Regions from separate parts of the Homo sapiens genome. Here region 1 is reported to be linked to region 2. The links are microRNA targets in miRTarBase. Many come from high-throughput screens and were not tested one by one. Region 2 holds a microRNA gene; the other region holds the end of a gene's coding sequence.
The links. The annotated mature microRNA hsa-miR-320d reads AAAAGCUGGGUUGAGAGGA and lies in region 2 at 3,075-3,093, opposite strand. An mRNA with a match to its seed (bases 2 to 7 or 8) in the 3' UTR can be bound and repressed. Matches are read on the target gene's strand: a 7mer-m8 pairs with bases 2 to 8, a 7mer-A1 pairs with bases 2 to 7 and ends in A, and an 8mer does both.

Region 1 (5,000 bases), not on the chromosome of region 2:
TATCTCTAGTATAGTAGACAAAACGAATTACTTAAATCTCTTTGACAAGAAAGAGTCCAAAAACCCTCTCTTCCTCCACCTTGCTCCAGATGGTGCTTAGTTCAAATGACCTTTCCCAGTAATTGGTCTTGTAGGTGCAAATGAGGCAGCGAATAGGGAGTGCCTTACATGTTTACTCTGGATCCTCACATCATCCGAGCTTACCCCCATTTCAGTTGCCTTTGTTCTAAAAGTACATCTTAAACTTTTTTCCAACAATAATCTGGGGATCTTTTCATATGCAGATTGATTCAGTAGGTTTGGGTGGGGCCTGAGATCTGCATTTAGCTAGTTCCCATGTGATGGTGATCCCACTGCTCTATGGACTACATTTTGAATGGTAAGGGCCCGAATTCATTCTTTGTTTTTTTGAGACGGAGTCTCCCTCTGTCACCCAGGCTGGAGTGCAGTGGCGCGATCTCGGCTCACTGCAAGCTCCGCCTCCCGGGTTCACGCCATTCTCCTGCCTCAGCCTCCCGAGTAGCTGGGACTACAGGCGCCCGCCACCATGCCCGGCTTTTTTTTAAAAATTTTTTTATTTTCATTTTTTTTTTAGTAGAGACGGGGTTTCACTGTGTTAGCCAGCATGGTCTCGATCTCCTGACCTCGTGATCCGCCCGCCTCGGCCTCCCAAAGTGCTGTGATTACAGGCGTGAGCCACCGCGCCGGGCCGAATTCATTCTTTGTAGGACTGGTAAACCACACCTTGCCAAATTTTACTCTTCAAAACCCTTGGTCGGGCGCAGCACTTTGGGAGTCTGAGGAGGGAGGATTGCTTGAGTTCTCTCAATTGAAAAAAAGAAAAAAAGGCCGGGCGCGGTGACTCACGCCTGTAATCCCAGCACTTTGGGAGGCCGAGGCGGGCGGATCACCTGAGGTCAGGAGCTGGAGACCAGCCTGATCAACATGGAGAAACCCCGTCTCTACTAAAAACACAAAAAATTAGCCGGGCGTGGTGGCGGGAGCCTGTAGTCCCAGCTACTCAGGAGGCTGAGGCAGGAGAATGGCGTGAACCCGGGAGGCGCAGCTTGCAGTGAGCCGAGATTGTGTCACTGCACTCCAGCCTGGGCGACAGAACGAGGCTCCATCAAAAAGAAAAAAAATACCCTGTAAGATACACATCATGCTCATTTTACAGATGAGGAACAGGCTCAGAAAGGTGAAGGGATGCCACACAACCACAAAACACAGTGAATGGTGGACCCAGGTGATCAGGTGTCTAGACCATTCTTTTAAGTAATAAGCCCCCCCTCCCTTTTTTTTTTTTGAACCAGGGTCTCTCTGTTGCCCAGGCTCGAGTGCAGTGGCGCAAGCACCGTTCACTGCAGCCTCGACCTCCTGGGCTCAAGTGATCCTCCCATCTCAGACTCCAGAGTAACTGGGACCACAGGGGCGCCCCACCATGCCTGGCTAATTTTTGTATTTTTAGTAGAGACGGAGTTTGGTCATGTTGCGCAGGCTGGTCTTGAACTCCTGGGCTCAAGTGATTCCCTGCCTTGGCCTCCCAAAGTATTGGGATTACAGGTGTGAGCCCCCGTACTTGGCCCTCATTTCTTTCAATTATAAAAAGTCAGCTCTTTGAAAAAAAAAAAAAGGGCAAAACAAGAATTCCACTTGCCTAGTAAACCACATGTTCCAATATCTTTATTAGCAATACAGGTGATATTTGATCCCCTCCCAAAACAGAATACCAAGACTGTTCCAGTATTTTCCTAGTGGATTCTCAAGCTTAAGTGTACATCAGAATCAGCTGGAGAGCTTGTTAAAACATTGCTGTGCCCAATCCTGAGTTTAGGATTCAGTAGGTCTAGGTTGTTGCCCAATAATTTGCATTTCTAATGAATTTTCCCGATGTTGATGCCTGCTATTTTAGGAATAAGTGGATGGAAGACAGGAAAAATGGGGGAGATTAATATCCTTACTTAGTACTAGTATTTTTTTTTCTTTTTTTTTTGAGGCGGAGTCTGGCTCTGTCGCCTAGGCTGGAGTGCAGTGGCGCAATCTCGGCTCACTGCAAGCTCCGCCTCCCGAGTTCACGCCATTCTCCTGCCTTAGCCTCCCGAGTAGCTGGGACTACAGGCGCCCACCGCCTTGCCCAGCTAATTTTTTTGTATTTTTAGTAGAGACAGGGTTTCACCATGTTAGCCAGGATGGTCTCGATCTCCTGACCTCATGATCCGCCAGCCTCGGCCTCCCAAAGTGCTGTGATTACAGGCGTGAGCCACGACGCCCGGCCACTTAGTACTACTGTTTTGTTAGACTAGAGGGGAAGTTATTATTCTGTGGAATGTTTTTTTTTTAAATTGAGACACAGCTTCTGTCGCCCAGGCTGAGTGCAGTGGTGTGATCTTGGCTCACTTTCACCTCTGCCTCTCGGGTTCAAGCGATCCTCTCACCTCAGCCTCCTGAGTAGCAGGGATTACAGGCACACACCACGCCCGGCTAATTTATTTTTATTTTTTTGAGACAGAGTTTCACTCTTGTTGCCCAAGCTGAAGTGCAATAGCGTGATCTCAGCTCACTGCAACCTCTGCCTCCCAGGTTCAAGTGATTCTCCTGCCTCAGCCTCCGGAGTAGCTGGGATTACAGGCGTGTGCCACCACGCCCGGCTAATTTTGTTTTAGTAGAGATGGGGTTTCACCATGTTGGCCAGGCTGGTTTCAAACTTCTGACCTCAGGTGATCCACCCACCTCAGCCTCCCAAAGTGCTGGGATTACAGGCATGAGCCACTGCACCCAGCCTAATTTTTGTATTTTTAATAGAGACGGGAGTTTCACCATGTTGGCCAGGCTGGTCTCGAACTCCTGACCTCAAGTGATCTGCCCTCCTTAGCCTCCCAAAATGCTGGGATTACAGGTGTGAGCCACCACGTGTGGCCTGGAATGTTTTCTTAAACAGCTACATTTTGCACCTGTTTTCTCAAAGCTTAGTTCTTTACCTACCTGCATAAGATGCCTGAAATCTTTACCCCCAGTCCACACTCCAGACCAATTAAGAATCCTTAAGAATGACTCAGGCAGGCATCAGTACTTGTAAAGCTCCCCAGGTGATTCCAACGCCCAAGCCAAGTTAAGAACAGCTGAAAACCTTCCCCAACCAAGGGGCACAGTGAATAGGTCATAGATATGCCTATTATTCCTATTAGGAATTGGGACACACAAGCAGCCCCTGACTGACAGCATCCTTTTATCCATGTGTGCCATTCAAATATTGGGACTATGTTAAAGGCAGCACCCCGACTGTAGGAAGCAGTTCATTTGTTTGGATGAGATGAAGTTGTCCCTATATAACCTCTACCTCAGGCTAGTAGTTAGAGTGAAATATATTTCAGTAGATGTTTGACAGCAAGTCTGCTTAAAGTAGATTAAAAACCAGTTATCTCAATGTTAAACCTCATTATCAGCAAAGAGCTGAGCTTCATTATCAAACTGAAGGGCATATAATTAGAACCATGATATTGATGATGCTCACCCTGAGTGAGGGGGAAAAAACCCGTACAATTACAGCACTAGATTATAAAAACTTCCTCTTTAATCAAGGCTTTTAACATGAACAGATTTCTTGAATAAAATGGAAAGTTTCCAGTACACTGAAACATAAATCCGCAAGTCACCACACATACAACACCCGGCAGGAAAAAACAAAAACAGCAAGTTTACATGATCCCTGTAACAGCCATGGTCTCAAACTCAGATGCTTCCTCCATCTGCCAAGTGTGTTCTGGATACAGAGCACATCGTGGCTTCTGGGGTCACACTCAGCTTAGGCTGTGGGTCCACAGAGCACTCATCTGGCTGGGCTATGGTGGTGGTGGCTCTACTCAAGAAGCAAAGCAGTTACCAGCACATTCAAACAGTGTATTGAACATCTTTTAAATATCAAAGTGAGAAACAAGAAGGCAACATAATAATGTTATCAGAAAGATGTTAGGAAGTAAGGACAGCTGTGTAAAGCTTGAGGCTGAAAAGTAGCTTGCCAGCTTCATTTCTTTGGTTTCTTGGGTAGTGGGCGCCGGAACAGCAAGATGTGAGGTTCTGAAAGAGTGAGGGAAATCTAAGAGACAAGCTCACACCATTCTATGTACAACCTATAGTGTATTCCACTACCACCTCCCCAGCTATCACCCACTCAGATCTTTATAACTAAATAAAGACTTAAGCATATGGCCTTAGAAGCAGACCCAGAAGTCTGGACTGTCTGCCAAGTACAGAATTGTTAATATCAGTTCTTTTGCTATGTTTATACAGCCCCAGGGTGTCCCTTATTAGTTTTGCCTGGCAGCTGGGTGTCTGGTGTCTTATCAATAAATATACTTTCCTTTGCTTATTTAGAACACATCCAAGAATGTTTTCGATGGAGAATGAGGCAGGGGCTATGATCAGGCTATATGTGGCCTTAAAAAGAATACCCTCTGATTGAATGAAAGATTACAGGAGGTTTTTCAGTGACAGGTTGTCTCTGAACTTCCCAGATATTTTAGTCTTATTTTTGGTCACTAGTTTTTTTTTAAAAAAATCCCCCACGACTGGAGGGGGAAGGAACCAGTAAACCATTTCCTATCTCCCTATTTGGGTTATACAATCTTATTCTTTCATTCTCTCAGTGTAGCAGTTCTATATGGTTGTTTTTAGCCAGTGCACTGACCTGGTTCATGGATCATATAATGGACCCATCCCTGACTCTGCTGAACGCCAAGATTCCTCCATTCAGATTCAGACATCAGATGGGTTTTAGGGACCAGCTTGGCTATGTCCTTGGGCAGCATGACATGTCTGTAACAGAAACGGGGAAGTGGGGAATTTATGTTAGTACCAGATACAGTCTCTTAGACAAATGCCTGTTTACAAGGCCAAGAAAGGAAAGAAAAACTGGTTTTTGATGTCAGAGTTTATATAATTTTATTGTGGGGTAGCAGCAGCTAGAAATACAGGCTATGTTATATAAATTCCGAGAGTATATT
Region 2 (5,173 bases):
AGGCGGCAGTGAGCCATGTGCCACTGCACTCCAGCCTGGGCAAGACTCTGTCTCAAAAAAAAACCACCACCAACAACAACAGAACAGATTTAAAAAAAAAAAAAAAAACACCACTTGTTCCTTTTCTTATATCTTAAGATTATAACCTTACTTCATTGATTTTCATTCTTTTTTTCTTTTTGAGATGGAGTCTCATTCTGTCGCCCAGGCTGGAGTGCAGTGACGCAATCTCGGCTCACTGCAACTTCCACCTCCCAGGTTCAAGCGATTGTCCTGCCTCAGCCTCCCAAGTAGCTGGGACTACAGGCATGTGCCACCACACCCGGGTAATTTTTGTATTTTTTAGTAGGGACAAAGTTTCACCATGTTGGCCAGGCTGGTCTTGAACTCCTGATTTCAGGTGATCTGCCTGCCTCGGCCTTCCAAAGTGCTGGGATTACAGGCGTGAGCCACCGCGCCTGGCCTGAATATTTTTTTCACTGGCCTATGAATAAGTTAAAAGGGTTTTAAAATTTCTCAACATAGGGAGTTTTCCTGATTAGCGTTCAGTTACTGGTCTCTAACTTACTTGCAATGTAATTGGAAAACATGTTCTACATTCCATTGAAATGTGTCTAGATATGCTTTATGACTAAGTTTATGATTGATTTATCAACATGTGTGCTTGAAATAAATGTATTTGCAGCTATTTAGATCACTGTGTAATGGTCTACAAATTTCCATTAGGTCAAGATAATTAGGTATAGCAAAGCTTCTGTTTGTCTGCTGAGTTCATCAATTATTACGTTAAAATATTTTATCATAATGGTATATTTATTTGTATTTCTATCAGCTTTTGCCTTGTATATTTTGAGTCATGTTATTAGGTATGTACAACTTTGTATTTTTCTGATAAACAGAATTTTTTTAAGTTTCTAATGTCTTTCAGACTATTTTTTTCCTGATATTAATATAGCTATACCAGCTTACCTTTTACTTTCAACCTTTCTGTATTCTTGCTTTACATATAACTCCAGTAAATAGTGTTATCACTTGACATTTAAAAAAACCCAGCCAGGTGCAGTGGCTCACACCTGTAATTCCAGCACTTTGGGAGGCCGAGGCAGGTGGATTACTGGAGGTCAGGAGTTCATGACCAGCCTGGCCAACAAGGTGAAATCCCTTCTCTAATAAAAATAAAAAATTAGCCAGGCGTGGTGGTGTGTGCCTGTAATCCCAACTACTCGGGAGGCTGAGGCAGAAGAATTGCTGGAACCTGGGAGGCGGAGGTTGTGATGAGCCTAGATCGTGTCACTGCACTCTGGCCTGGGCAAAAAGAGCGAAGCTGTCTCAATAAATAAATAAAAATATAAATAAATAAATAAATAATCCACTTGGACATATTCTACTGTCATGTATTTTAATTAATTCCATATGGTATGACTGTTTTATTAGTGCTTAGAATTAAAATATATATTCACTACTTTTTTTTTTAATAGCAGACAGCTTATTGAAGGGCAATAGAGAGCAGAGAGTTTATAAAGACATACTCTGAACACTGAGGCAGAGCACACTGCTGAAAGAGAGTGAGCCAGCAGCATACTCACTGCTTTATTCATCTGCCATTTTCTTCTTGCATCTCAGGCCTTAAATTTAAAATCATTTCTCTTCTGCCTGACGTACAACTTTAGGAGTCTTTTAATGAAAGTTTGCTGGTAGCCAACTGTTTTTGTTTGACAAATGCATTTAGCCCTCATTTCTGAAAGACATTCCAAATATATCAGTAACTGTGGTAAATATAAACAAACTAAACACCCAAATAAAAATAAAAAATTTTCAGTGTCTCATGTGTACTGGAAAAAAAAATGTATTCTGCTGTTATTGGGAGCAGTTTCTATACATGACCAACAGATTGTTGTTTTTGCCTTTTTCTTTCTGAGACAGAGTCTCACTCTGTCACCCAGGCTGGTGTGCAGTGGGGTGATCTTGGCTCACTGCACCCTTCACCTCCTGGGTTCAAGCAATTCTCATGCCTCAGCCTCCCAAGTAGCTGGGACTATAGGCATGTACCGCCATGCCCGGCTACATTTTATATTTTTAGCCGGGCATGGGGCTTCGCCATGTTGGCCAGGCTGGTCTCAAACTCCTGGCCTCAAGTGATCTGCCCACCTTTGCCTCCCAAAATGCTGGGATTACAGGCATGAGCCACCACACCTGGCCAAGGGATTGTTGATTAACTGTGAATTAGTATCTTTCATGAATTGTAAAAAACTCTCACCCATTAACTATTTAGAGGCTAGGCACGGTGGCTCACACCTGTAATCCAGCACTTTGGGAGACTGAGGTGGGTGGATCATCTGAGGTCAGGAGTTCAAGACCAGCCTGGCCAACATGGCGAAACCCCGTCTCGACTAAAAATACAAAAATTAGCCAGGCATGGCCGGGCGCAGTGGCTCATGCCTGTAATCCCGGCACTTTGGGAGGCCGAGGGGGGCGGATCATGAGGTCAGGAGATTGAGACCATCCTGGCTAACACGGTGAAACCCTGTCTCTACTAAAAATACAAAAAAATTAGCCAGGCGTGGTGGTGGGCGCCTGCAGTCCCAGCTACTCGGGAGGCTGAGGCAGGAGAATGGTGTGAACCCAGGAGGCGGAGCTTGCAGTGAGCCCAGATTGCGCCACTGCACTCCAGCCTGGGCAACAGAGTGAGACTCCATCTCAGAAAAAAAAAAAAAAATGAGCGAGGCATGTTGGCACGTGCCTGTAATCCCAGCTACTAGGGGGTGCTGAGGCAAGAGGATCGCTTGAACCTGGGAGGCGGAGGTTGCAGTGAGCTGAGATCATGCCACTGCACTCCAGCCTGGGCAACAGAGCGAGGCTCTGTCTCAATTAAAAAAATGAAAAAAAAAAAACAATTATTTAGAGTTAGCCTCTGACCTATTTTCTCTTTTCTTTCCTATTGGCAATACGATTGTACAAATGTTACTCTTTTACTTTCCTTTCCTATTTCTTTCCTCTTTGCTTCTCTCTGCTGCATATGGATACTTCTTTACTGCTGTTAAACTCCACTAAATTTTTCTTTTTTTTTCTTTTCATCCTCTCAACCCAGCTTTTCTCAACTTTGGGAAGAACTGGGACGAGAAGGCCAACATTTTTAATGTTTTTCAAATCTGCTTGGTCACTTTTAAAGCATCCTGCTCAATATTCATTCTATCTTACACATATTTTATATTCTGACTCTGATAAGCCCAATATTCAGAGGCTTTATGAGTCTGATTCTGTTCTCGTTTCTGCTGGTACACATTCATGGTTTTGCTTCCTTGTGTGTTTTGTCATTTGAAGGCTGTTGTTATGGTGGATTCCTTCACACGGTTCCTGTTGACCTGGAACACTATTAGCTTGGGACCACTGTCAACTAAATCTTGTTTTGAGTTTTTTTAGAATCCTTGAACCTTAAAAAAAATTTAGGCCAGGTGCCATGGCTCACATCTGTAATCCTAGAGCTTTGGGAGGCCAAGGCAGGCAGATCACTTGAGGTCAGGAGTTCAAAACCAGCCTGGCTAACATGGTGAAACCCCGTCTCTACTGAAAATACAAAAAAATTAGCTGGGTGTGGTGGTGGGCACCTGTAATACCAGCTACTTGAGGGGCTGAAGCAGGAGAATTGCTTGAACCCTGGAGGTGGAGGTTGCAGTGAGCCGAGATCACGCCGCTACACTCCAGCCTGGGTGACAGAGCAAGGCTCTGCTAAAAAAGAATAAAAAAAAAAAATTTTTTTTCTTGAGACAGAGTTGCTCTATCACTCAGGCTAGACCATAGTGGTGTAATCAGAGCTCACTGAAGCCTTAACCTCCTAGGATCAGGGGATGCTCCCACCTCAGGCCCCTGAAGAGCTGTGACTACAGGTGCATGCTACCACGCCCGGCTAATTTTTTAATTTTTTGTAGAGACAGGGTCTCCCTATGTTGCCCACGCTGGTCTCAAACTCGTTGGTTTAAGTGATCTTCCTGCCTCGGCCTCTCAAAGTGCTGGGATTATATGCATGAGCCACTGTGCCCAGCCCTCAATCCTTTGAATTGTATGAAAGTTGAGTCACGCTGCTCAGCAGCATAATGGAAAAGAAATAATTCTAACTTTGGCATGAAGACCTAAAGTACTAGAATGGATTAGAATAAACCCTTTATTTCTACAAGATTAATTTCTCTATAGTGACCCAGACTTAGGTGAGGGTAGTTAATTTAGTGTAAAATATATGTATAAATGTAAACAAATAAACGTATGTACATATATATCTGTCTATAAATCATCTCAACTCTTATAACATAGTACTGTGATATCATCCAGTAATTGTATTGTATTTCAAAGAAGTATGGTCACCGAGTGAAAAGAAAAAGGTTAGGAGTTGTTGTCTTAAATGTATTACTAATTCCCAGATATTCTTTTGAACCTATGAATACTGATGATTTTTCTCCATGCAAGAATATTTTTCAGTTACCATCATATTTTTGAAAACAATGTAACATTTATACCAGCCAAATCAAATGTAATAATCAACATAACATATACAAACTCTAGTAAAATTATTTTATTTAGTTGTAATATCCATCTCTAATTGTTTGAAATAAAAATTTCCATGGTCTTAATTGAACTGTATGTTACTTTCTTTTAGAATATCCTTTTTTTCATTAAAATAATTTCTAAACCACTCTATGTGTTCAACCTTCTGTTTAACACTAAGATATGGGTTTTTGGAAAGGCCACAAGTCACCAGCTCCATGAAGTGGCGAATTGGTCCTTGTTTTGGAAAGCTCTCCAGGTGTTTCTCCAGAAATATATGTTCATGAAATTCTGAACCATCATCATCAAAACCTAGGAAATGAGACCAAATACATTACATTATAATTTTAAATACAAAACCTACATCATAAAAATAATATTAATGAGGTAATATAATATTACAGTTTAAGGCATGAACTTTGGAGTTAGACCTAGGTTGCATTTTTTTTTTTTTTTTGAGATGGAGTCTTGCTCTGTTGCTCAGGTTGAAGTGGAGTGGCACGATCTCAGCTCACTGCAACCTCTGCCTTCTGGGTTTCATGCGATTCTCCTGCCTCAGCCTCCCGAGTAGCTGGGACTACAGGCATGTACCACCACGCCCAGCTAATTTTTTTATTTTTAGTAGAGACAGGGTTTC

Region 1: the mRNA of CKS1B is a reported target of hsa-miR-320d. Seed matches in the 3' UTR shown: 7mer-A1 at 3,989-3,995.

The regions. Positions count from the first base shown.
Region 1 is chr1:154,977,799-154,982,798 of GRCh38, reverse strand. It overlaps CKS1B (CDC28 protein kinase regulatory subunit 1B), which reads right to left. Exons shown (of 3, transcript NM_001826.3): 2 at 4,685-4,812; 3 at 3,548-4,074. The coding sequence ends at 4,022. Among named protein-coding and RNA genes, the nearest start is that of FLAD1, 3.0 kb to the left of the region's middle. RefSeq lists enhancers at 1-202, 803-1,400.
Region 2 is chr13:40,724,754-40,729,926 of GRCh38, forward strand. It overlaps MIR320D1 (microRNA 320d-1), which reads right to left and starts at 3,134; the gene lies at 3,063-3,134. MRPS31 (mitochondrial ribosomal protein S31) reads right to left here. Exons shown (of 7, transcript NM_005830.4): 7 at 4,375-4,848. The coding sequence ends at 4,619.